4 linked regions of the Homo sapiens genome follow. The protein of the gene in region 3 purifies or fractionates together with the protein of the main gene of each other region. This does not show direct contact. Each region holds a gene or a part of one and is shown on either strand. Other genes may lie near its edges.

Region 1 (6,079 bases), on a different chromosome or scaffold from region 3:
TGCTTGGTAACTGTGTCATGAAGCTGCCGGACAGACACACGTGGCATCTCCCTGGGCAGGAGAGCAGGCCTGCAGCATGGGTCCTGTTCCCGTGTGCCGTGGGTGGCAGTGGCTGCACCTGGCACTAGGGCTGCTCTGTGGATGTGGGTGACAACGGCAGGAGGGGATGCTGGCCTTCCTGCACATAGACCTGCAGTTAGTAAATCATAAGCCCAAATAAACAGGTTGTTTGAATATAGTTTCTTGGTTCTCCGTTGAAACCGTGGGACACAGGGCAGGCCCACCTGCTGAAGAGCGGATGGCTTGGGGGCTGGGTGTGGCTCCCTGTCAAGGTGGGACCATGTGGATACCTGTTCTCAGGCCAGCACCTGGCCACAAGTGCCCGATGAGCCACCCACCTGGGGAGGAAGTCCCGTGCGCTAGGGGAGGCTGTGCTGTGCCCACAAAGGCCCAGTCCCTGCAGGGGAGGCGAGTGCTGTCACAGGCCTGGCTTCCCTGTGGCCAGAGGGACAGGGTGTCCTGAGACGGCCACATCCTATTCCTGGAACCTGCAGATGCGCAACTTCACCTGGCAAGAGGGGCTTGGGTATGATGAAAGGTCTTGAGCTGGGAGATGATCCTGGGTGGTCCGGGACCCAGTGTCCTCACAAGAGGTGGCAGGAGGGTGAATCAGAGAGAGACTGGAAGAGGCTGCGCATGGCTGTGAAGGTGGAGGAAGGGACCCCGAGCTGAGGGATGCAGCGCCTCCGAGCACTGGGAAACTCTCCAGGAGGGCCTGGTCCTGCCCACAGCTTGATGTTAGCCTGGCGGGGCATGTGTGCACTCTGACCCCCAAGCTGTGAGATGGTGACTTGCTTTAAGCCACCAGGTTTGTGGTACAGCAGCCCCAGGAGACACAGGGACTCTGCCCTGCAGTGTGGAAGGCATGTGTGCCCCGGCCCCACTGCTGACTTGGGGATGCAGGTCTGCACCTGGGGGAGGTGCCCGGGGCCTATGCTCGTGCCCCTGACCTTGCATTGGTCCCTCCCTCGCCCCCGGCACTGCCCCAGCTGGTGTGGGCACCCGGCCTGTTGAGAATGGAGGCTGTCACTCCAGTCCTGCGTCCTGCAGGCCCCAGGACCTGATTCCGGGTTGTCGGGAGCCCCTGTAAAGCTCATCAAAGGTGTGGCACAGGGGCAGCCTCTGCTTCAGGCACAGCTGAATCCTGCTTCCCAGCAGGAAGGCCTGGCCCGGGCGCCCTGCCGTCCCTGACTGGGTGGATGGAGGTAGCTGACACTTTTCCCACATAGGGTTCCCTGAAGGGAAGCTTAGGACTTCAGGTGGGGTGTGGCTGGGAAGAGCAGGACTGGCGAGCGTGACCCTCCCCGTGGCTGCGTGTGCTCTGAGCTGCTCAGTACCACAGCGGCTGTCGCCTGTCCTCCCTCGGACAGTGTGGATAAAGCCCACTCAACCTGGGGCGGGGAGGAGGTCACCTTCTAGCTCCAGCACTCGCAAAAGATGCACCTGACCTGGGGTGGGCTCTCACAAAGCCTCAGACTCGAAGCCAAACTCGGCTCCCAGCAGCTCCGGGTTCAGGGAGGTGACCCTAGCAGGTCTCTGGGAACACCCTCTCCTAACCCCCCAACCCAGGGCAGGAGGGATCGCCGGACAGAAGCACGTGCGGAAAAACCCGCACCTTGACCCAGGTCAGCCTGGTATGAGGGTGACTTAGTGACAAACAGATGGGACGGTGCTGTTGCAGGGCACAAGGCTGGCCCCAGACACCAGGCACCACATGGGGCCGGGCCATGGGCAAGGTGCACTCTCAGAGAAACACAATGTTTTCGGAAAAGACAGACAGAGCAGCTCAGGGCTAGAGAATAAGTTTATACACTGCCTCGTTAGGTCCAGGGGCCCGCGCACGTGGCCAGGCGGGTGGTCCTGACGCTTCAATTCATTTACAAGTATTGGATTCCACGCCTGCTCCTGTGCCCGCAGGCTTCCCCAATAGGCCAGCAATCTCAATAATGCTTTATTAAAGGGCAGATTCATATGCGGCTCTTGGGGGAATTTTTACAAATATCAAAGGAACTAATCCAGCATCCTATATAGAACTCTGCACACTTTGGGGAGGTCCGTGAAGCAGGACAAAGTGCTCTTTACACAGGAATTGAGTCGGTTCAAGTATCTGCTCTGTGGGGAGGACACCCTAAGCATTCTACATACGTCACCCCTGCTCTCAGGATGCACCCAGTGGGCTCGCGGTCAGGGTGGCCTTGCCGGTGTCCACCCCCACACCACCCCCAGCTCCGGAAGCGGCTCCACACGGGGCTTGGACCTCTGCAGGGCAAGAGAGGGAGGGTCTTGAGCTGGCTGGGCCCTCTGGGCTCCCTGGGGGAAGACCCCACCCTGCTGCCTCATGGGGCCTGCAACAACCCCAGGGCGGGACCCTCCACCTGACAGTGGGGACAGGCAGAGGCTGGGGCGTTGTGCCTCTTCTAGAGGTGACCTGCTCACCTGCTCTCAGGTTGACCCTGCCTGCCCCCCACCACCCGGGCACACTCCTCCCACGCAGCCTGCTGCAGGGCCTCTGTACTTCCTCTTTGGCGAGTGCTCCAGAAATCCACCTGGCCCTCCCTTGCTGCCTCAGTGCAGCCTTCCCTGACCCCCATCTAACGTCACAACCACCTGAGACTCCCAGCATAGGCCCTTGTGGCTCTGCGGCCAGAACGATGCCTGGCATGGTCAGCACCCACGGCCCAGCCCGCCCGAGGATGTGGCAGGGCAGGAGCCACTTCCAGCTGCAAGCCCTCCTGGCTGCTCACAGTGGAGCTAGTCTTAGGCAGCCCCATCCCTTCTCTGTTGAGGTTTACCTCCAGCGCCCACCTCACCAGTGCGTTCTGCTATCTACAGCCCTTCTCACCCGCAGCATCCGGGACATCCACGATCATACAGTCGCCCTCCTCCTCTTCCTCCTCCTCCGTGTCTGCCTGGAAGCCGTCCATGTCTTCAGCACCAATCTGGACAGACAGGGTACACGGCCATCAGCACTGCAGGCAGCAGCCACCCTGGTGCCAGTGCGGTAGCGGGGGGAACTCCACAGGTGTGACACCTTCCTCCCACCCCCAACACGGAAGGAAACCAACATCCAGAACCCAATTTGGTAACAAACTGTCCAAATGTGAGAGGTTTATTCAAGAGGCCACAACCAGAGAACCTTGGGGGTTCCCTCAAATGAACTGGATTCAGATCTCCAAAAACAGCCATCATTGCCAACTGCAGAATAATTTCCAGTCAGTGACAGGCCGCATACCTGATAGTGGCCCCATCAGATTACAACTGTATTTATTTATTTTTATTTTTTTTTGAGACGGAGTCTCGCTCTGTTGCCCAGGCTGGAGTGCAGTGGCGCGATCTCGACTCACTGCAAGCTCCGCCTCCCGGATTCACGCCATTCTCCTGCCTCAGCCTCCTGAGTAGCTGGGACTACAGGCGCCTGACACCACGCCCAGTTTGTATTTTTAGTAGAGACGGGGTTTCATCGTGTTATCCGGATGGTCTTGATCTCCTGACCTCGTGATCCGCCCGCCTCAGCCTCCCAAAGTGCTGGGATTACAGGTGTGAGCCACCATGCCTGGCCTTTATTTTTTATTTTTGAGACGGGAGTTTCACTCTGTCACTGAGGCTGGAGTGCAGTGGCACAATCTCAGCTCACTGCAACCTCCGCCACCCGGGTTCAAGCGATTCTCGTTCTTCAGCCTCCTGAGTAGCTGGGATTACAGGTGTATGCCATCACGCCCAGCTAATTTTTGTATTTTTAGTAGAGACGGGGTTTCACCATGTTGGTCAAGCTGGTCTCAAACTCCTGACCTTATGATCTACCCACCTCAGCCTCCCAAAGTCCTGGGATTACAGACAACTGTATTTTTATTTAATATATATAAATCTTGAGACAGAGTCTTGCCATATATCCAGGCTGGAGTGCAGTGGTGCGATCTTGGCTCACTGCAACTTCTGACTCCCAGGTTCAAGTGATTCTCCTGCCTCGGCCTCCTGAGTAGCTGGGATTACAGCCACCTGCCACCACACCCGGCTAATTTTTGTATTTTTAGTAGAGATGGGGTTTCACCATGTTGCCAGGCTGGTCTCGAACTCTTGACCTGAAGTGATCCGCCTGCCTTGGCCTCCCAAAGTGCTGGGATTACAGGCGTGAGCCACTGCCCCAGCCGCAACGATATTTTTGCTGTGCCTTTTTTTTTTTTTTTAACAGGTGCCCGCCACTACGCCCAGCTAATCTTTTGTATTTTTAGTACAGACGGGGGTTTCGCCATGTTGGCCAGGCTGGTCTCGAACTCCTGACCTCAGGATTCGCCCACGTCAGCCTCCCAAAGTGCTGGGATTACAGGCATGAGCCACCGCACCTGGCCTCTGCTGTGCCTTTTCTATGTTAAAGACACATATACCACTGGGTTACAAGTGCCTGCAGGATGGAGCAGTCAGTCACCTGCTGCACAGGTCCACAGCTCAGGAGCCCTGGGCTATGTACCACACGGCCCAGGCGTGTGGCAGGCTGTCCATCTAGGATGTGTAAGAGCAACCTAGCCCCACCCAACCATGAAATTGCCTGAGGACACCTCTCAGAACACGTCCCTGATGTGAAGTGATGACTGTGACTTGTGAATTATTATTATTATTTTTTTAGACCTCGACTCACTGCAAATTCCACTTCCTGGGTTCACACCATTCTCCTGCCTCAGCCTCCTGAGAAGATGGGACTACAGGCACCCGCCATCACGCCCAGCTAATTTTTTTTTTTTTAAGTAGAGACAAGGGGGTGTCACTATGTTGCCCAGGCTGGTCTCAACCTGGGCTCAAGCCATCCTTCCACCTCGGCCTCCTAAAGTGCTGGGATGACAAGGTGTGAGCCACCGCACCTGACCCTAGTAAGATTCCTGAGCTGTTTCCATTTGCTTTCACCAAAGGAGAAAGACAGGATGCGTAGAGGCCACCATGAGCCTCCACGTCAGTGCTTACCCTCTCTGTGCATGAACACAAGCCCATCCCAGGACAGACAGCCACACTTATTTCAGTAGGGAGGATAGTCCTCAAAAAATTCCAGGAATTCTTCCTCTACAAAAACCTAGAAAAGTGACCGCACAGCAACACAACGGTCAGGCCATAGACTGGTTTCATGGGCTGTCATGTAAGAGCACAGTGCCTGGCCAGGCAGACTGGGTTCCTACCGTAGCCTCATCAATTCCTGGGTAGGGGCTCCCCTCCTGGATCCTCTCTTCAGTGGCTGGGAGCCCAGGCTGTCCCTCTCCCCAGGCAGCATGGGTTGACCCTGTGAGGACACAGGAGAAACATCTTGCTCTGTCACCCAGGCTGTGGTGCAGTGGTGCAATCACAGGTAACTGCACCCTTCAACTCCTGGTCTCAAGTGATCCTCCTGCCTCAGCCTCCCAAAGTGCTGGGATTACAGGCATGAGCCACTGAGCCTGGCCTACGGCCATTTTCAACTACCTTTTTGAAAGAATAGTTAAGCAAAGAAGAGTCTAAGAGTCCCCTGTAGACGCTGCTGAGGAGGGACATTCTGATCTGGAGGTGTCTGGGGACGTTAAACAAAAGAACATGCCAATTTCTTCAGAGCCACCTCAAGTCACTGGGCCCTCCCTCCACACAGGAGACGCGTTGACACATTAGGCTTTTCTTGGATCCAAAATTTTTCAGAGCAATCACCACTCTTCACCCTCTAGGCTGAAGACAGGATTTAACACATAACACCGAGTCCCACTGTGCTGAGCTGCCGGCAGCTTGCTTCACGGGGACAGCTGTCATCTCGCCAGCAGCACTGCAAGTGCTAAACACAGACACGGAGGAGCGCAGACTACGGAAAACAGGAGTCAGGAAAACGTTTAACGACTACATGGGATGAAGATGGTGTCACTAACATTTGTGCCTTTTTGTCTTTTTTTTTTTTTTCTGAGACGCAGACTTGCTCTGTTGCCCAGGCTGGAGTGCAGTGGCACAATCTCGGCTCAACTGCAACCTCCACCTCCTGAGTTCAAGTGATTCTCCTGCCTCGGCTTCCTGAGTAGCT
Region 2 (6,321 bases), on a different chromosome or scaffold from region 3:
AGCATCTAGATATATAGAGTCAAGTGTATTAGAGTTAAGGAGACAGAACCCAATACAGTAATGACTTGGGACTTCAACAGCCCACTTTCACCATTGGACAGATCATCTAGACAGAAAGAAACAATGAATTTAATCTGCACTATAGATTAAATGGACCTAATAGACATTTACAGAAGCTGTCATCCAACAGCCGCAGAATACATTCTTCTCCTTAGCACATGGAACATTTCTCAAGGATGGATCCTAAATTCTCCAATCAAAAGACACAGAAGAGCTGAAGGGCTAAACAAAACAAGGCCCTACTACCTGCTACATATAAGAAACCCACTTCATTTATAAAAACATAGATAGACCAAAAGATGGAAAGAGACATTGCATGCAAACAGAAATCCAAAAAGAGCACCATCATGTTAGGCCGCAAAACAAGTCTGATAAAAAGTATATTTTCTAACCACAATGGAATAAAAGTAGAAATAAATAACAAGTGGAACTTTGGAAACTATACAAACATATAAGAATTAAACAATACGTGCCTGAACAACCAATGAAGTAATTAAGGAAATTAAAAAATGTCTTGAAACAAATGAAAATGGAAACACAACCTACTAAAACTTATGAGATACAGTTAAAGCTAACACTAAAGGGAATGTTTATAGCAATAAATGTGCAAATCAAAAAGTAGAAAACCAAGAAATAAACAACCTAGTAATGCATCTTAAAGAACTAGAAAAGCAAGAGCATGCCAAGCCCCAAATTAAGAAGAGAAATAATAAAGAAAACAAGAAAATAAATAATAAAAAACAGAAATAAAATTGAGACAAAAAAATAGAAAAGATCAATGAAATGAAAAGGGTTGTTTGGAAAGACAGACAAAATCAATGAACCTTTACCCAGACTAAGAAAAGAAAAAAAAGAAGATCCAAATAAAATCAGAGACAAAAAAGGAGACATTACAATTGATATCACAAAAATTCAAAGGATCATTGGAGACCATTTGAACAACTGCATGCCAATAAATTGTAAAACCTAGAAGAAACGAATAAATTCCTAGGCACATACAGCCTAAGAAGAATGAAACATTAAGAAAACCAAAATCGAAATAGACCCATAATAAGTTTCAAGATAGAAACAATAATAAAAAGTCCCCCATCACAGAAAAGGCCAGGACTTCATGGCTTCACTGAGTTCTACCAAACATTTAAAGAAGAACTAACATCAATCCTACTCAAATCATTCTCCAAAATCAAGGAGGATCTCCAAATTCATTTTATGAGGCCAGATTTATTCTTTTTTTTTTTTTTTTTTTTTTTGAGACAGAGTCTCACTCTGTTGCCCAGGTGATCTGCAACCTCCACCTACTGGGTTCAAGCGATTCTCCTGCCTCAGCCTCCAGATTAGCTGGGATTACAGGCATAAGCCACCATGCCCAGCTAATTTTTGTATTTTTTGTAGAGATGGGGTTTCACCATGTCGGCCAGGCTGGTCTCAAACTCCTGGCTTCAAGAGATCTGCCTGCCTCAGCCTCCCAAAGTTCTGGGATTACTGGCGTGAGCTACCATGCCTGGCCCCAGATTTATTCTGATACCAAAACCAGACAACGATACAACAACAACAAAAAAGAAACTACAGGCCAGTATCTCTGATGAAAATAGATATAAAAATCTTCAACAAAACACAGCAAACCAAATTCAACAGCACATTAAAAAGATCATCATAATCAAGTGGGATTCATCCCAGGGATGTAAGGATGGTTCAACATATGTAAATCAATCAGTGTGATACATGGTATCAACAGAATGAAGGACACAAAGTGTATTGTCATTTCAATAGATGCCAAAAAAATCTTTTTTGATAAAATTCAATATCCCTTCATAAAAACTCTCAGCAAACTGGGGACAGAAGGATCATCCCTCAACATGATAAAGCCATACACAACAAACCCACAGTTAGTATCAGACTGAATGGGGGAAAAACTGAAAGCCTTTATTCTAGGATCTAGAAGAAGGATGGGCACTTTCACCACTATTACTCAAGTTAGTAACAGAAGTCCTAGCCAGAGTAAACAGACAAGAGAATGAAATAAAGGGCATTTAAATTGGAAAGGAGTAAGTAAAATTATCATTGTTTGCAGCTCATGTGATCTTATACTAACCTAAAGACTCCAACAAACGACTATTAGAACTAATAAATTCAGTAACATTGCAGAATACAAAATCAACACACAAAAATCCATAGAATTTCTCTATGCCAACAGTGACAACCTATCTGAAAAAGAAATCAAGAAGGTGATCCCATTTACAATAGCTACAAATAATATTAAATATCTAGAAATAAACTTAACCAACTACAATGCAAACTATCAAACATTGATGAAATTAATTGAAGAGGACACAAACAAATGAAAAGACATCCCATGCTCATGGGTTGAAAAAAATTGTATTGTTAAAATGACAATACTTCCCACAGCAATCTACAGATTCAAAGCCATCCCTATCAAGAGCAATGACATTCTTCACAGAAATAGAAAAAAAAAATCCTAAAATTGTATGGAAGCACAAAAGACCCCAAATAGCCAAAACAATCCTGACCAAAAAGAACAGAGCTGGTAACTGGTAGACTTACCACACTACCAAACCTCAAAATATACTACAACGCTATAGTAACCAAAATAGCACGATAGTGGCATAAAAACAGACATGTAGAACAACAGAACAGAGAGTCCAGAAATTAATCTGTGTATTTAAAGCCAATTAGTTTTTTACTAAGGTGCCAAAAACACTCATTGGGAAAGGACAGTCTCTTCAATAAATGGTGTTGGGAAAACTGGATGCCCACATTCAGAACAACAAAAGTAGACCCCAACTCTTGCCATATACAAAAATCAAAGAAAAATGCATTAAAGACTTACATCTATGAAACTAATCAAGGAAACCATTAGGCAAAAACTCCAGGACATTGGTCTAGGCAAAGACTTCTTAAATAAGACCTCAAAAACACAAGCAACTAAAGCAAGAAAATAAAATAAAATAACAACAAATGAGATCTCTCCAAGCCAAAAAGCTTCTGCACAGCAATGAAAACAATAAAATGAAGATATAACATGTAGAATGGGAGAAAATATTTCAAACTAATATCTGACAAAGGATTAATAACCAGAATATATAAGAATCTCAAACGACTCAATAGGAAAAAAAAATCTGATTTTAAAATGGGCAAAAGATCTGAGGAGACATTTCTCAAAAAGACATACAAATGGCAAACAGGCATATGAAAAAAATGTTCCACATTATTAATAATCAGAGAAATACAAATCAAAACTATAATGAGGTATCAACTCACTCCAGTTAAAATGGCTTTTATCGAAAAGGCAGTCAATATCAGATGCTGGTGAGAATGTGGAGAAAGGGGAACCCTTGTACACTGTTGGTGGAAATGTAAACTGGCACAGTCACAACAGAGAACAGTATGGAGCTTCCTAAAAACACAACAAATAGAACTATAATCCAGCAATCCCACTACTGTGTATATACCCAAGAGAAAGGAAATCAGTATATAAAAGGTATCTGTACTCCCATGTTAACTGCAGCACTATACACAATAGCCAGGATATGGAATCAACCTAACTGTCAATCAATGGATGGATAAAGAAATGTGGTACATATACACAATGGAATGTTATTCAGCCATAAAAAAAAAATGAAATCCTGTCATTTTCAACAATATGGATGTGACTGACATTATAAGGGAAATAAGCCAGGCATAGAAAGACAAGTATCACATGTTCTCACCCATATGTGGAAGCTTCAAAAAAATTGAAGTCATAGAGATAGTGAGTAAAAAGATGTTAGCAGAGGCTGGGAAGGGTAGTGTTGAGAGGAGAATCAAGAGGAGATGGTTAATGGGTAGAAAAATATAGTTAGATAGAAGGAATAAAATATAGTGTTCAGTAGCACAATATAGTAATTACAGCTAACAATAATTTAGTGTATGTTTTAGAACAATTAAATGAGTGGAAATGAAATGTCCCTAACACAAAGAAATGACAAATACTTGAGGTAATGGATATCCCAATTACCTGATTTGATCATTACACATTGTATGCTTATATCAAATATCACATACTCCCCATTTTATGTATCCATAGTAATTAAAAATTAAAATTTTTAAATATATGAGTTAAGTTAAAAAAATTTTGGCTCAAAGCATAAATATATTAAAATCAAATCTCAGAAGTAAAAAAGAAAGACAATTAGGGTTTTATTTATGGTAGTGGCAGACAGGACCAACCTTTCTGCTGACGCCAACAAAAAAACTAAATAATGAATGAAATAAAGTAATGTGAAATTACTTACCAAATTCCATGTGAAGGTAAACCAGAAACAAACCATACACCAAGTAACTTTTGTTCTGAGGACATTTTCCTGTCTAGAAGAAAAGGCTGAGAAAAAAGGCTGAGCTAATGGAAGATGTGCCGGTCTATGGTAAAAAAATCAAAGCACAAGGCCAGGTGTGGTGGCTCATGCCTGTAATCCTATCCTTTGACAGGCCAAGGCAGGAGGATAGCTTGAGCCCAGGAATTCAGGATGATTGTGTGCAATACAGCGAGACCTCATTTAAAATAAAAATAAACACAAAAAATCAAAATCAAAAATAAAAATAAAAGCACATTGCCTAACAAAGCTGGGGACTCAGATAAACTACCCAATTTATGTTCAGAGTTTAAGGACAACATCATTAGGATAAGAGGAAATTGAAGGAAAATAGAATTCATGATCTTAAAGTCTTCCTTAATGTCATGTGTATAACAGAAGGAATCCCAACTCTTGAACATGAATAGTGACTTGGGACTGAAAGCACTCCTAGAGACCTTTCCTAGAAAAATGTACCTTCTTAAAAAAGATACTATTATTCTAGGACTCATATATTCCTATAATTTTTTAAATACAACTGGTACTCAAGGCACACAAGAAAAAAATATCATAAGCTAGCAGACACAGACTTAGAAAATTTAGAAACTGGAATTATCTTCAACAAACAACAAATGAACTATGAATATAGTCGGCCCTTCATAGCCACAGATTCACTCAACCAAGGATTAAAAATACATGTATATTTTTAAAAACACGACTATAAAAAATAATAGAAATTTTTAAAAAGCCATGACAGTATAACAATATTTACATAGCATCTACATTGTATTAGGTACCATAAGCAATCTAGAGATTATTTAAAATACGTGGGAGGATGTGTGTAGGCCGTATGCAAACATGATGGCATGTTATATAAGGAATTTGAGCTGCCTGTGGATTGTGGTATCTGCACGGGGTTCTGAAACCAATTTCCAGCAGATACTAAGGAGCAACTATACTAGGCCAATAAAAGCAAGATTGTAATTTTCAGCAGGTAACCAGAAACAGTAAGAATATCACCAATATCTTTAAAAAGATACTGATGCATTGATCTAATAATCTCGATGAATACAGGGCAAGATAAAGAATGCCACACGATGATTGAACATTTCCTCTACCCCCACAACCACACTTGACTAGGAGAAAAAAAAAAAAGAAGAAAAGAATTCCACACAAAAAGATTAGAGTGAAACAGCAGAAAAATTACAACCAAAAAAAGAAACAAACAAAAAAAAATTCTAAAAGAGAGATTTCCTTCAAAGCAGCATGAATTATTAGGTTGGTACAAAATTAATTGTGGTTTTTGCATTGTTGGAATTTGCCATTTGATATTGGAATTTTTTTTTTTTTTTTTTTTTTTTTGAGATGGAGTCTCTCTCTGTTGCCCAGGCTGGGCTGCAGTGGCGCGATCTCGGCTCACTGCAAGCTCTGCCTCCAGGGTTCACACCATTCTCCTGCCTCAGCCTTCTGAGTAGCTGGGACTACAGGCACCCGCCACCACGCCTGGCTAATTTTTTGTATTTTTAGTAGAGACAGGGTCTCACCATGTTAGCCAGGATGGTATCGATCTCCTGACCTCGTGATCCGCCCACCTCAGCCTCCCAAAGTGCTGGGATTACAGGTGTGAGCCACCACACCCGGCCTGGAATACATTCTTAAATAAATGTGGTTATGTTATATGTCATTTTAATGGGCATTTCTTGCTTTTTTTTTTTGGCTAATGACTTATTACTTGCTGTTTATATTTATTTTGGACTATGGAAATGATGCTAGACAAAAAGCAAAGTTGAGTGATTTTCTTATTTAAGTTCAAAGTGGGTCGTAAAACAGCAGAGACAACTTGCAATATCAACAATGCATTTGGCCCAGGAACTGCTAATGAACGTACAGTGCAGTGGTGGTTCAAGAAGTT
Region 3 (6,321 bases):
ACCATCAATATGAAGAATTTTTACTCCCCATGACAAGGCATTTGATAATATACTATTTGAAGGAATAAAATCCTGTAAAAAAAAAAGTTTTATGGTTGTTCTAGGAAATTATTTAAGATGAGCTAAATTTTAATAAAAATTCAATTATTTGAAGTTTAATGTCACTAAGGCAGTTATTTGTAACAGACCCTATAGAGTTACAATAGCTAGGACATCAAGATTTTCTATAGAATTCCTAAAATCAATCCCACTTTATACCCACATCCTTGGTAATTTAATGAAAACTATAAGGCAAGTTTTAAGTTTCCAGTAATATTTTAAAAGGCCACAAGATGGGGATGTTTCTACATGAAAAGTAAGTTCTTTACTTTGTAAAATAAAATATATGCTGAGATTCAGGTTTTTGCCTAAAAATGTGGAAAGGAAAATTTCAAGAATATCTGTAATTTCCAGTTGAGTTTTTAATAACAAAATGTACAATGTGAATCTTTATAGTTCCTACTTACATGGTCCTTGATAGCTTTTTCAACTAATAATTTTCCTCTGCTTAAACACACCTATAAAAAGACCAGAAAAATTTAAAACATAGTGCTTAACTGGAGAACAGGTTAAAAAGGTAAAGCAGCTAAGAAAAGAGAACTTTTGGGTCTCATATTAAAAAGTTTCTCTTTTTTGGGTGACCTCTTTGGTTTTGTAGTAAATTCTATTCAACATGAAAAATAAAATAGCTAGGTTTCACTGGAATTCTTTATAATTAATTGGCTTACATTTTAGTTCCTATTAAATCAGAGATTTCAGAAAAACAATAAATTTTATATACTGTTTTCACATGTTATTTCACCTTTTTTTTTTTTTTTTTTTTTTTGGAGACAAAGTCTTGCTGTGTCGCTCAAGCTAGAGTACAGTGGTGTGATCTCAGCTCATTGCAACCTCTGCCTCCCGGGTTCAAGTGATTCTCCTGCCCCAGCCTCCCAAGTAGCTGGGACTACAGGCACGCACCATCATGCCCGGCTAATTTTTGTATTTTTTTTAAGTAGAGATGTGGTTTCACTATGTTGGCCAGGCTGGTCTTGAACTCCTGACCTCGTGATTCACCCACCTCAGCCTCCCAAAGTGCTGGGATTACAGGCGTGAGCCACCGCACCCAGCCGTTACTTCACTTTTTAAATAAAGTACTAGGAAAACTCGTTGAAATGCCATAACCAACAATTATTTTGGAATCGCTGGTGTATTGTCTCCTTGCTCCAAAAAAGCATTAACTCAGAGAATGCATGGTCCTTTCTTGATCTCTTTTCCATTCTTTCTTCTATGTATTGTATCTCTTTTTTCAAGTGATAGCTCCTTTCTGACTCATTTCTTCTGTTTTCTCCTCATTTTCCTTAATTTTCAAATGGCTATAATAGGTAAGTCGAGGAGAATATTGTAAAATAATAACTTAATTACACTTCAACCTAAAAACTGAAATAAACATTTTATCTCTCATTTGATCCTATCCCACCTCACACCCAATTAAATCAATTTAATTTGTCTTTCCTTGCATCTTTCAATTTACTGGCCATGGAGTGGTAGGGATGTGATTTCAATAATTCTAGAATAGGGGCTGGCAACCTTTTTATGCAAAGGACCAGACAGTACACATTTTAAGCTTTGTTGGCCATATGGTCTCTACAGCAACTATTCAATTCTGCCTAAAACACAACAACTACAGATTATACCTAAACAAACAGGTATGGCTGTGTTCCAATAAAACATTATGACAATGAAATCTGAATGTCATAAAATTTCTACTTGTCACAAAATATTCTTTTGATATTTTTACACAACTATTTGAAAATGTAAAAACCATGCTTAACCTGCAGGTTGTACAAAAAAGGCAACAGACTAGATTTGGCCCATGGGCCAGAGTTTGCTGACCCCTGCTCTGAAAATTAAAAAGGTTTCTATTTCTTCTTCAAAGAATGATCTGCTCTTAACTTTTTAGTTGTAAATTATTCTAAAAACTACACGCCATCCCTAAATACAAGGGTATACCTAAGCAATCAGAGTATGATTACACAAGAACTATTAGGAAAAACCCACCTTCCTAAAAGACAGCAACTTTATTGAGGACTAGAGAGCCACACATCATGTGGCTTTGCAAATGTTCTACATAAGTAAACTCTACTGCCACCTTGCTATTAAAAACCAGGAGATCTTCAGGATATAGCCCTTCTGAGTCTCAAAGCATATTTAAGAGACTTACTGTGTCTGGTGACTTAAATGAACTTCCATCATGGCTGGGATGAGGTGAAGTGGTTTCTGCAGTATATGCAGATTCTGGACTTGGTACAGGAGAAATTCGACCCAAGGTTTGTGCAAATTTAGCTTCCTTCTTATTTGAAATAAGATAACTGATATCTTTGCTGAGAAATTCTTCAACTCGCTAGAAGAGAACAAAGTATTTTTATTTATAAATTTGTTTTAAGAAACACGGTCTCACTGTGTTATCCAGGCTAGAGTGCAGTGGCACAATCATAGCTCACTGCAGCCTCAACCCCCTGTTCTCAAGTGATCCTCCCGCCTTGGCCTTCTGAACAGCTGGGACTATAGGCACATGCCACCAAGGTATTTTCAACTAGGTCATAAAAACCATAAACTGTTTCATATGCCAAGCACAGTAAAAAATTTCAATTTGATGCAATTATTTCGTAAATTGGTGGTTTTTATACTGTATTTTTCTGAACCTAGATCTCTGAGGAAGTATAAGAGCTCCTATAACAGCACAACAGCAGCATGTGCTGGATACTATTCTTAAATACTTTATATATGTTAATTAACTTAATCTATGGAACAGCCTCATGATACTATCTACATTTTCTGCAGGATAAAAAGTGAAGAGAGGTGACTTGCTTAATGTTACCCAGTAGCAAATAATATAATTTGAACATAGGCATTCTGACTCAAGCCCATGATCTAAAGCAGCAGTGTCCAATACAACTTACCAAAGCATTTGAAATGGCCTTGGTAGTGTGATTAAGCCACTGAATTTTTTGTTTCTTAAGAGATGGGGTCTTGTTATGTTGCCCAGGTTGGCCCTGAACTCTTGGGCTCAAGAGAGCCTCCTACCTCAACCTCCCAAGTACCTGAGAGTACAGGCACACACTACTGCGCCTAGCTCAAGCCACTGATTTTTAAATTTGATTTTAAAGACTTTAAATTTAATAGCCACATATCACTAATGGTTACCATAGCAGACAATACAAGTCTAAATCAATCATTATTACACCTTCCCTTGAGGCTTCAACTTACAGGATGGAGGGAACCTTTACGCTTAAGAGTGTAAGACTGTTTGAATAGAATTTCTTTACTAAAATGTTTGAAAACCACCGCCTAAGTATCTGAATTTACTTATAAAGACATGTACCAAAGTGAAGGTTATTAAAGATCGCCAGGGTCAGGAAAATAAAAATAGGGAGAAGTAAATACTAAGTAGAATTACTAATATTATTAGAAAAATACATAGTATAAATATGTATACTATAAATACCCACTAAGCAGAAGTAAACTGTGAATCATTAATAAGCAGTAACAATTTACATCCATGAAAGACTTCTCAGAATATTTTAAATAGCTGTATCTATTTTCTATAGGATCCCACACTATAAATGATAATAAAAATGAAGTGTGTAACAGATAAGTTAACTTCATCTAAGCATTAAGCAGCATTTGCTACTGAGACCAGTGGCCTCCTTGGTTAAGTGCAAATCATTTCTTTTCCGACCAACATTCATTTTCATTGAACAGTAAATAATGTACCTACATTTATTTATTCCAGGGATTAGACTCAAATGCCTATAAGGGCCAGGCAATAATACAAATAATTCACACATCAAATACTGCCTTCATTTTCATAAATATGAGGCCCTAATAATGTCAGAGGTTCTAATTTTTCATAAGAAACCCGATCTCCTATACACTTTTATTGTGATAAATATAAAATTAGCCATTTTAACCATTTTTAAGTGTACAATTTAACGGCAGTAAGTACACTCACATTATGCAACCATCACTACTAAAACATTTCTATAACTTTTCCATGATCCCAAACTGAAAGTCTGTACCCATTAAACAGTAACTCCTCATTCCTCATTTTTCCCAGCCCCTCATAACCTTTATTCTACTTTCCATCTCTGAAATTGGCTATTCTAGATAACTCATATAATGGAATCCTACATTTGTTCTTTTGTAACTGGCTTCCTTCACTTAGCACGTTTTTTGTGGTTCACCCATGTTGTAGCATGTATTAGAATTTCATTCCTTTTTAAAGCTGAATAATATTCTATTGTATGTATATACAACCTCTTCTTTATCTATTTACTTGTTGGACATTAAGGCTGTTCACACTTTTTAGCTATTGTGAATAATAAATATCTTTGAGACCCTGCTTTCAATTATTTTGTATGTATAGCCAGAAATGGAATTGCAAAATCATATAGTAATTCAATTTTTTACTTTTTTCAGAAACTACCCATACTATTTTGTATGGTGGCTATATCGTGTTACACTACCACTCAGAGTGCACAAGGGTTCTACTTCTTCAAATCTTTGTTAACACTTGTTATTTTTCTGGTTAACAGTAACCATCCTAACAGGTGTTAAGTGATTACTGATTGACATTTCCCTAATGATTAGTGACGTTGAACATTTTTTCATGTACTTATCTGCCATTAGTATATCTTTTCTGAGTAAATGTCTTTTCAGTTCCTCTGCCCATTTTTAAATTGGGCCATTTGTCCTTTTGTTCTTGGGTCACAGAAGTTCTTTATATAAGTATTCTGGATATTAATCCCTTAGCAGATGTACAATTTGCAAAGATTTCCTGCAATTCTGTGCGTTCTTTCACTCCTGAAAATGTCCTTTGAGGCACAAAAGTTCTTAATCCTGATGAAGTCCAATTTCATACTTTTCATTTGTTGCACATGATTTTGGTATCATATCCAAGAAATCACTGCCAAATCCAATGTCATGAAGATCTCTCCCTATATTTTCCACTAAGAGTTTCAGTTCTTACAAATAAATCTTAGATCCATTTTGAGCTCATTTACGCATATGACAGTAAAGGTCCAACTTCATTTTTCTGCATGTAGATATCCAGTTTTCCCAGCACCAGCTGTTGAAAAGATCATCTTTTCCCCAATGAATGGTCTTGGCACCCTTCTTGAAAATCCATTAGCCATATATGCAAGGGTTTATTTCTGGGTTCTCTGTTCTACTCTATTGGTCTGTATGTCTGTTCTTATGTTAGTACCACTTATTTCCTTTGGTTTTTAATTTCTTACATAGTTAAAACTCCTTAGAGTGAATAAAACGCCCTTTGCAATCTAGCCCTAATATAATTTTGTTTGCTGTCACTTCCCCCACCTATATCCTAAGCTCAAATCCCACTGCAACATTAGTAGTTGTACAAACAAACTGCATTGACATATATTTTAAATATGCTTTCCTCTATTTAGTATGTCTATTTGCCTTGCTAACTAAGACTTCAAGATCCAGCTCAAACTTTATCTCTGTTGATTCCAAACGGCAGAGTTAATCATTCCTATCTCTGTGTTCTAATAGCAATTTCTACATATTTCTGTCAAAGCATTGACAACACTCTAACATAAATTATTCAGTTGTCTGAGGTTTCCACTAGACAAAGAATACCTAGAGGGTTATATTTTACTTATTTTTGTATCTCTAGGATCTAAAATAGTGCTGATATACTGGAGACAGTGGTGGAATAATTTTTGAATGAATTCCCACATGCCCAAATCTTCATCATTCTTCAAAGCCGTGTTCCAGTTGTGTGTGAACAAAACCCACAATTCCTCAGCTGGAACTAATCTCTCCTTTCTCTTGACATTCTATGTTGTATTATTAACACAATTACTTGTACCAATGTCATCTCTAGCTAGGTTAGAACATGAGGATGGGATGGACATAAGGATTCATTTTTTATTTTATTTTTCTTTTGAGACACAGTCTCGCTCTGTTGCCCAGGTGGAGTGCAGTGGCACAATCTTGGCTCACTGCAACCTCCAACCCCCAGGTTCAAGAGATTCTCCTGCCTCAGCCTCCCCAGTAGCTGGGATTACAAGTGTGCGCCACCATGCCCAGCTAAATTTTTGTATTTTTAGTAGAGATGGGGTTTCACCATGTTGGCCAGGCTGGTCTCAAACTCCTGACCTCAAGTGATCCGCCTAACTCAGCCTCCCAAAGTGCTAGGATTACATGCGTGAGCCTCCGAGCCTGGCTGGATTCATTTTTGAATCTACCAAAACACAGAGTGCAGTGCACATC
Region 4 (6,321 bases), on a different chromosome or scaffold from region 3:
TTAACTTTGATCCATTTTAAAATTTGAAATTGATATTTTAATTCTATTGCCTGGGCTTTGGACCAGTGAACAAAAAAGAATCATAATGGGGGAAAGTGCGCAAGAAAATTGCTTATTATGTTTTTCTATATTGTGGTAAAATATACATAACACAATGTTTATCTTTTTAACCCTTCATAAATGTACAAGTCATTGGCATTAAGTACATTCACAATATTGTGTAACTATCACCACTGTCTATATCCAAAACATTTTCATCATTCCCAGCACAAACTTTGCACTCATGAAATAGCAACTCTTCCGTCCCCTCTGCCTCATAGCCCTGGTAATAACAATTCCACTTTCTGTGTCTATGAGTTTGCCCATTCCAGGTACCTCATATAAATGGAATTGTATAATATTTGTCTTTGTGTGTTGGCTTCTTTCTCTAAGCATAATGTTTTCAGAGTCCTTCAATGTTGTAGCACATTTTAAAATTTTAAAATATTTTAAAATTTTTGATTAAACAGTATTCCATAGTATGTATATGTCATATTTTGTTTATCCATTTATCTGCTATGGTTATTTCCACCTTTTGGTTCTTATAAATAATGCTGCTATGAGCATTGGTGGTCAGATATTTAAGTTTCAGCTTAGAGTGCGATTTCTGATTCATATGCTGGTTCTATGTTTAGAACCTTTTGAGGAATCGTTAAACTTTTCCATAGTGGCTGCATTATCTTACATTCCCACCAGCGAAGCATGAGGGTTCCAATTTCTTCACATCCTCATCAATGCTTGTTATTTTCTGATTTTTAAATTTTTTAAAAATTGTAGATGTGAAGTGGTATGTCATTGTGGTTTTGATTTGCATTTCCCTAGTGACTAATAAACAATTTGTGCATAAAGTGCTGCCTCAGTATGTAACTCATGGTCATTGAACAACTCGAACTTGTTCATGCAGTTGTTAAAGGATATTTCTAGAAACTAGTTTAGCACTTGAGAAAATCTGACTGAATATTTCCCATTAAGAAAAGTTTTTTTAATTAGTTGAACCTCTCTTGAATATCATTGATGGCTTGTATGTATTTATGAACATCAATATTACTCTTTCCGGGGTTCAGAGGTGATTGCTGCTTTTAGATTGCTGTGCATGAATGAGATGTCTGAGAGGGTAAGGTATGTGAGAGAGATGAAGACAGACACAGACTGACTGAAAAGATGGATTTTGTATAGCATCATACAACCAATATAATTGTTGCTCTTTAGAACATTGAAGTGCTCATGTAAGTGAACAAGTTGCATATTCTCTCAAGTGAAAACTTAGCCTGTTTTTGTTGTGTGTCTCTGGGGAGCTCTGATGTCTGAGCCTCACTCTTCGGGGCTCTATTTTGGAGTCCTGCATTCTGAGATCTAAGGGCAAGTAGGAAGGATAACTTATTTTTTATGCCCACAGATTATTGAATGCTGTTTGTTCCCAAGAGGGAATATATCTTCTAGAAGTGTATGTAAGAGTGGAAGAAGTAAGAAAAGAATACAGACAATGTGCAAAAATAAAAGATTGTTTTAAGTTGAATTCCTGTTCCCTGGTTTGCTAGCTTGCTTGCATGCACCTCACTAGTTGAGTAATATAGTCCCTGGGTGAACCGAGTTGACTGGGGGATTGGCTCCTCTTAATGTGATTCTGGTATCTGTTTACAAGAGGAGTTCCTAGAGGTTCAGGATGGTCATCCTGGCTAAATTCTTTTTCCCTTTTCCAGATATACATTAGAGGGTGCTGTTTTGTTTTGCTAATGATAGTTTATTGACAGCCAGATGACATTAGGAGCATATTTTTAGGAATTACACTCTTGTGAAGTATGCTGTTCTCTCAGTGTAACAAAAACTTAGAACTATTTCTGAAAAAAATTTAACTGTATGAACTTGGCAAGGTTTTTTGAAGAATTTGTTATGTTCTTTCCCCATAAATTCTCTCTGTATAATCAAACCTTGACAATTGTATTTTTAGTGTGCTTTGTTGAAGACCACTTGCCTCTACAAGTGCTTGATGAGTGATGTGTGAAAGCTCTGTTTCTCTGTGAGGAAACACATGAAAGGAGCTCTGTAGTATTATTAGCACATGTAGCTTGCATGTGAGGTACCTCCTCAGTTCCTGAAAGTTAAGGACAGCACAGATGAAAATCCCAGCAGCGTTCATGATGAGTGGGAGAATCCTGGGCACTAAAGAATCTTTCACAGATATTCTTCCACTCATATTTGTAGAAAATTGGCCATACCCATATGCCACATTTTTGTAAACACTGCATCCTTCCAGCTTTTTGGGGTCTTTATTTTTATCTGCAATAAGAGACCTTGAAATCTGAGAATATGACAAAGAATGCACGGAAATGTGATGTGTATTGGATCAAATGGAAATATTCCTTATGTCTGTTTAGTTGTCCTTTTCCATAGAGAATAATTAGATTCTAGTTAACCTAGAAAAATGTTTAGAAAAATGTCCAGATAGATTCACTATCATATAATAGTAGCAAATATTGTGGTTGTCTTATTAGTTGAATCTGTAGTCTTTTTTTGGTTATACTTCTTATGTTGGTTTGTCAGTGTTCTCTGATCTATGAAATATGCAAGAATTCCTTAGTGATATGTTAATAGAGGCCTCATTAGAATTACAAGATTCTTCCTGCTTCTGGTTTTAAAATAAATTTTATTTTTAAACTAATTAATCTTGGAAAAACATGGGCTGGACAGTATAATTAGATAGCACCATTGTAGTGTTAATTCTTGCTCTCTGGCTGTCACTAGAGTTCTGGAATCTATGTGACATATACTTCAACTTTACTAAGTGCACATGGCAGTATTAAGTGTTGCAGAAGTAATAGGCATACAGAAGTTGTAGATTTTAAGGTACTCTTAAATTTATTTTTTCCTAGGACAGGAAGATAATATGACCTCAGTAACAAACCACTTTTCTCAATCAAAGCTGGACTCCCCAGAGGAATTGGAACCTGACAGAGAAGAGGATTCTTCTAGCTGTATTGATATTCAAGAAGTTCTTTCTTCATCAGAATCAGATTCATGCAATAGGTAAGAAACATGCAGTAGTTGATTATTTTAAATATCTACTTCATATGCACATGTAGATAGATAGGCAGAAATAATTAGAATGTAGCTTTGAGGCATGGCATGGTGTGTCACTCTTACATTTCAGTCCCCTTTTACTGCTGGGTCTTCTTCACAGTGATAACAAGGCAGGATTTGGGAAGGTAGTGCAGGGATCACAGGGTGAGTTTGGTCTCTACTCTATAGCCTTTATGTAGATACTTTTCCTACCGTTGGAAAAGAAAGCATGATAGACAGTGAAATTTTTGTCAAGACGATGAGTAAAGGAGATAAAAACAACTATATTGGAAAACAGAAATGATCAGAAAGACATGGCGCATAGGAGGGTTAAGAAATGAAAAATTTAACTGAGTAAATAGAATAGATGGGGAAACTTTAAAAATGAGAAGTTTGGTAATGAGTCATTTTGAAAAGATATTTTAAAAAATATATAGGGTTTATTTTACACACACACACACACACACACACACACACACGCATGCACACACACATACCAGTTTTTGTTCCGGTCTTTCACTTAATGTTATGTCATAAATGTTACGTTTCTATAGGTTGGCACAAAAGTAATTGAAACCACAGTTACTTTTGCACCAACATAATAGCTTATGTTTATAATTGTTATTTTTTAATGAGTACAGTATTCTGTTATGTCTCTGCGCTATAATTTACCAGACCCTTCAGTTTCTGTTAGAGCTCTACATTTTTCCCAGTGTTCTACTTATGTACCTGATGCTATGGTAAAGCTCTTCCTTTGTTTCTATTGAATACTTTTTTTTTCATTTTTTTGAGACGGAGTCTCACTCTGTTGCCCAGCCTGGAGTGCGGTGGTGCGATTTCGGCTCACTGCAACCTCCACCTCCCAGGTTCAAGCATTTCTCCTACCTCAGCTTCCCAAGTGGCTGGGATTACAGGCCTGTGCCACCACGCCTGGCTAATTTTTTTTTTTGTACATTTAGTAGAGACAGGGTTTCACCGTGTTGGCCAGGCTGGTCTCAAACTCCTGACCTCAAGTGATCCACCCACCTCGGCCTCCCAAAGTGCTGGAATTACAGGCATGAGCCACCGTACCTGGCCACTTATCTTTATTATTCTGATATGTAGGCATTGCCCTCTGAATGAATTGTACTGATTTAAAATGCCTACCTATCAGAATCATTGCTTATTGCCAGTGTTATTTAATGACGCTGAAACTTAGTCAAGAGAGACACCCATTTGATTCTGGTAACTGATACCATAGAAATCAGGAAAAGATTCAAACTTAGAAGGGACTACCAGTCAAGACCAAATTCCTTTAGTAGCATCATACTATGTGGTATTTATTTATCTGGTCCAACTGGGCGTTCTCAGGGTGGGGTTAATGAGTATATTACATAGATTTGGCCTTGCTGTGCTGAAGACATGCCAGTCTTGTCACCAGCTTCATACTCAACCCCTCAGATTCTGTTATCAAGGACGCTTGTAATCAAATTGAAGCTTAAGTGGTAGAGGAAATTTTCATTTTGGGGATGTTCCTTGTCTTTCACTTCATTTTTCCTTGTGGGGTTCAGTGTTGTAAGCGATTTCTATTATCCCCCTACATTTTATTATTTGATTTTTATTTGTGTCAGTCATTTATACTGCTGACAGTTGAAAGAATAAAAACAGAATGAAGCATCCTTATTTTGTTTCCCTGCCCATTTAACTTCAGAGTTTGGTTTAGTGTCTAGTTGTAGCAGTGGATATTTTGCTAATTAAAAAAAAGAATTTCCTTTGCATTAGACTCTCAGAGAGGATAATCTTTTGTTTCTTAAGCTTGTAAGTTAAATGTAAGCACAAATGTTTAATTCTTTTTTGAACTTGAATTTTTGTAGACATCCATGAGAACTCCAATATTTGGAACTAACCTAATGTTCTTATTTTTTTTTTCCTTAAAAAAATACAGCAGTTTACTTTTTATAAGAATTTAAAGTGATTGACTAAAAGGAATGTATTCTTTCTCTCTCTTTTTCTTCTATCTTTAATACAATGTTTCCTAACCCTTTTCTTCAGCACACATAGCAAATGATAGTATTTCTGTGGCATGCCAGGATAAAGAGATGATGCCGCCATGGGTTTCAGCCACCCTGCGTCTCACTGTGGGCTAGGGATTAATGCCTAGTGTACAACTACCCCGTGGGTGAGGGAGAGAACACACCAAATAGGAAGCTTAGCTTTTATTATATGAATACACCGTTGAACAGTTGAATAGGTGGGACATACATGGACAAATAGGCTCATGGTGCTTCTGTGGTAGAAAGGACAGCAAGAGCATTTGAAGCGCCCCTGTTTTGGGGCAGGTAAGGCAATGATTGAGTCAGTCGAAAAAGAAATTAAGTGACTTAATCTCATGATCCTAATGAATGGTAAAGCCAGTTTTCTGAATTCAGATATAATGCTTTCTTCTGCTTTTTTTTGCTGTTCTCCAAATCTCAGAAGGCACTGAAGCCAGATTAAAAGTTAAATGAACAGGTGACATATTAAAGTTACAGGTTTATGAGTTTCCCCACTCCACTGTTTTCATGTAGCTCCAGAACCTTAGAGGATAATGGAAGACAGATTCAGTCCAATGCTGTTTTTCAGAGTAGAATCTATCATGTTTTTAAAGTTAAAAATTATCAGTGTACATATTAAATACAAGTTTTTCAGATTTAGAATTTGTTCTTCTGAAAATAAGAGTCCTGAATGTCTCCTGGACAGAAAACCCTGGTTCTGGGGGTTTTAGGATCCAGAAGACAGCATGCCCAGATGGGCTTGGGTTAGTTCACTTGATTTGCACGTGAAAGATGTGAGGGTACAGGAACTGTGTGGGTTGGGGTGGTCAGAAAAGAGGGAACAGATATGGCTATAGCAAGAGAGAATTTTTGCAGGTTGTTTTTTAGGACTAGATCTAAACATTTTAAAATCAGCATTTCAACTAGGATTCCTGGATAATGGGAAAGTCCAGTGTTCGGAACAGCATGTATAGCATGTGACCTCTTTTCTAAAAGGGGGAGGAATACTTATATTTGTTTGGTTTTGCATAAAGAAACACTAGAAGACTACACAACAAACTAATGAAAGTGATTGCATGTTGGAGATGAGAAAACAGGTTGGATGGGAACAAAGGAGGAAGTGGGCCAACTCAGTATACATCTTTTATGTCATTTGATTTTGAACCATGTAAATATATCAATCTACTTTAAACAAACAAACAAAAAAAAAAGA

What was found.
Region 1: the proteins of DBF4 (region 3) and CHAF1A purify together in Homo sapiens (co-immunoprecipitation; one study listed by IntAct). This does not show direct contact.
Region 2: the proteins of DBF4 (region 3) and ORC4 purify together in Homo sapiens (affinity purification with western blotting, with the first as the bait; one large-scale study listed by BioGRID). This does not show direct contact.
Region 4: the proteins of DBF4 (region 3) and RAD18 purify together in Homo sapiens (affinity purification with western blotting; one study listed by BioGRID). This does not show direct contact.

Annotation. Positions count from the first base shown.
Region 1 is NC_000019.10:4,439,165-4,445,243, reverse strand, and holds the end of CHAF1A (chromatin assembly factor 1 subunit A), read right to left. Parts: intron 3,000-6,079; coding exon 2,903-2,999; intron 2,320-2,902; coding exon 2,219-2,319; 3' UTR 1,847-2,218; downstream 1-1,846. UniProt on the Homo sapiens protein: Acts as a component of the histone chaperone complex chromatin assembly factor 1 (CAF-1), which assembles histone octamers onto DNA during replication and repair.
Region 2 is NC_000002.12:148,009,562-148,015,882, forward strand, and holds part of ORC4 (origin recognition complex subunit 4), read right to left. Parts: intron 1-6,321. UniProt on the Homo sapiens protein: Component of the origin recognition complex (ORC) that binds origins of replication. DNA-binding is ATP-dependent. The specific DNA sequences that define origins of replication have not been identified yet.
Region 3 is NC_000007.14:87,881,080-87,887,400, reverse strand, and holds part of DBF4 (protein DBF4 homolog A), read right to left. Parts: intron 2,423-6,321; coding exon 2,243-2,422; intron 558-2,242; coding exon 507-557; intron 73-506; coding exon 3-72; intron 1-2. UniProt on the Homo sapiens protein: Regulatory subunit for CDC7 which activates its kinase activity thereby playing a central role in DNA replication and cell proliferation. Required for progression of S phase.
Region 4 is NC_000003.12:8,895,636-8,901,956, reverse strand, and holds part of RAD18 (E3 ubiquitin-protein ligase RAD18), read left to right. Parts: intron 1-2,909; coding exon 2,910-3,063; intron 3,064-6,321. UniProt on the Homo sapiens protein: E3 ubiquitin-protein ligase involved in postreplication repair of UV-damaged DNA. Postreplication repair functions in gap-filling of a daughter strand on replication of damaged DNA.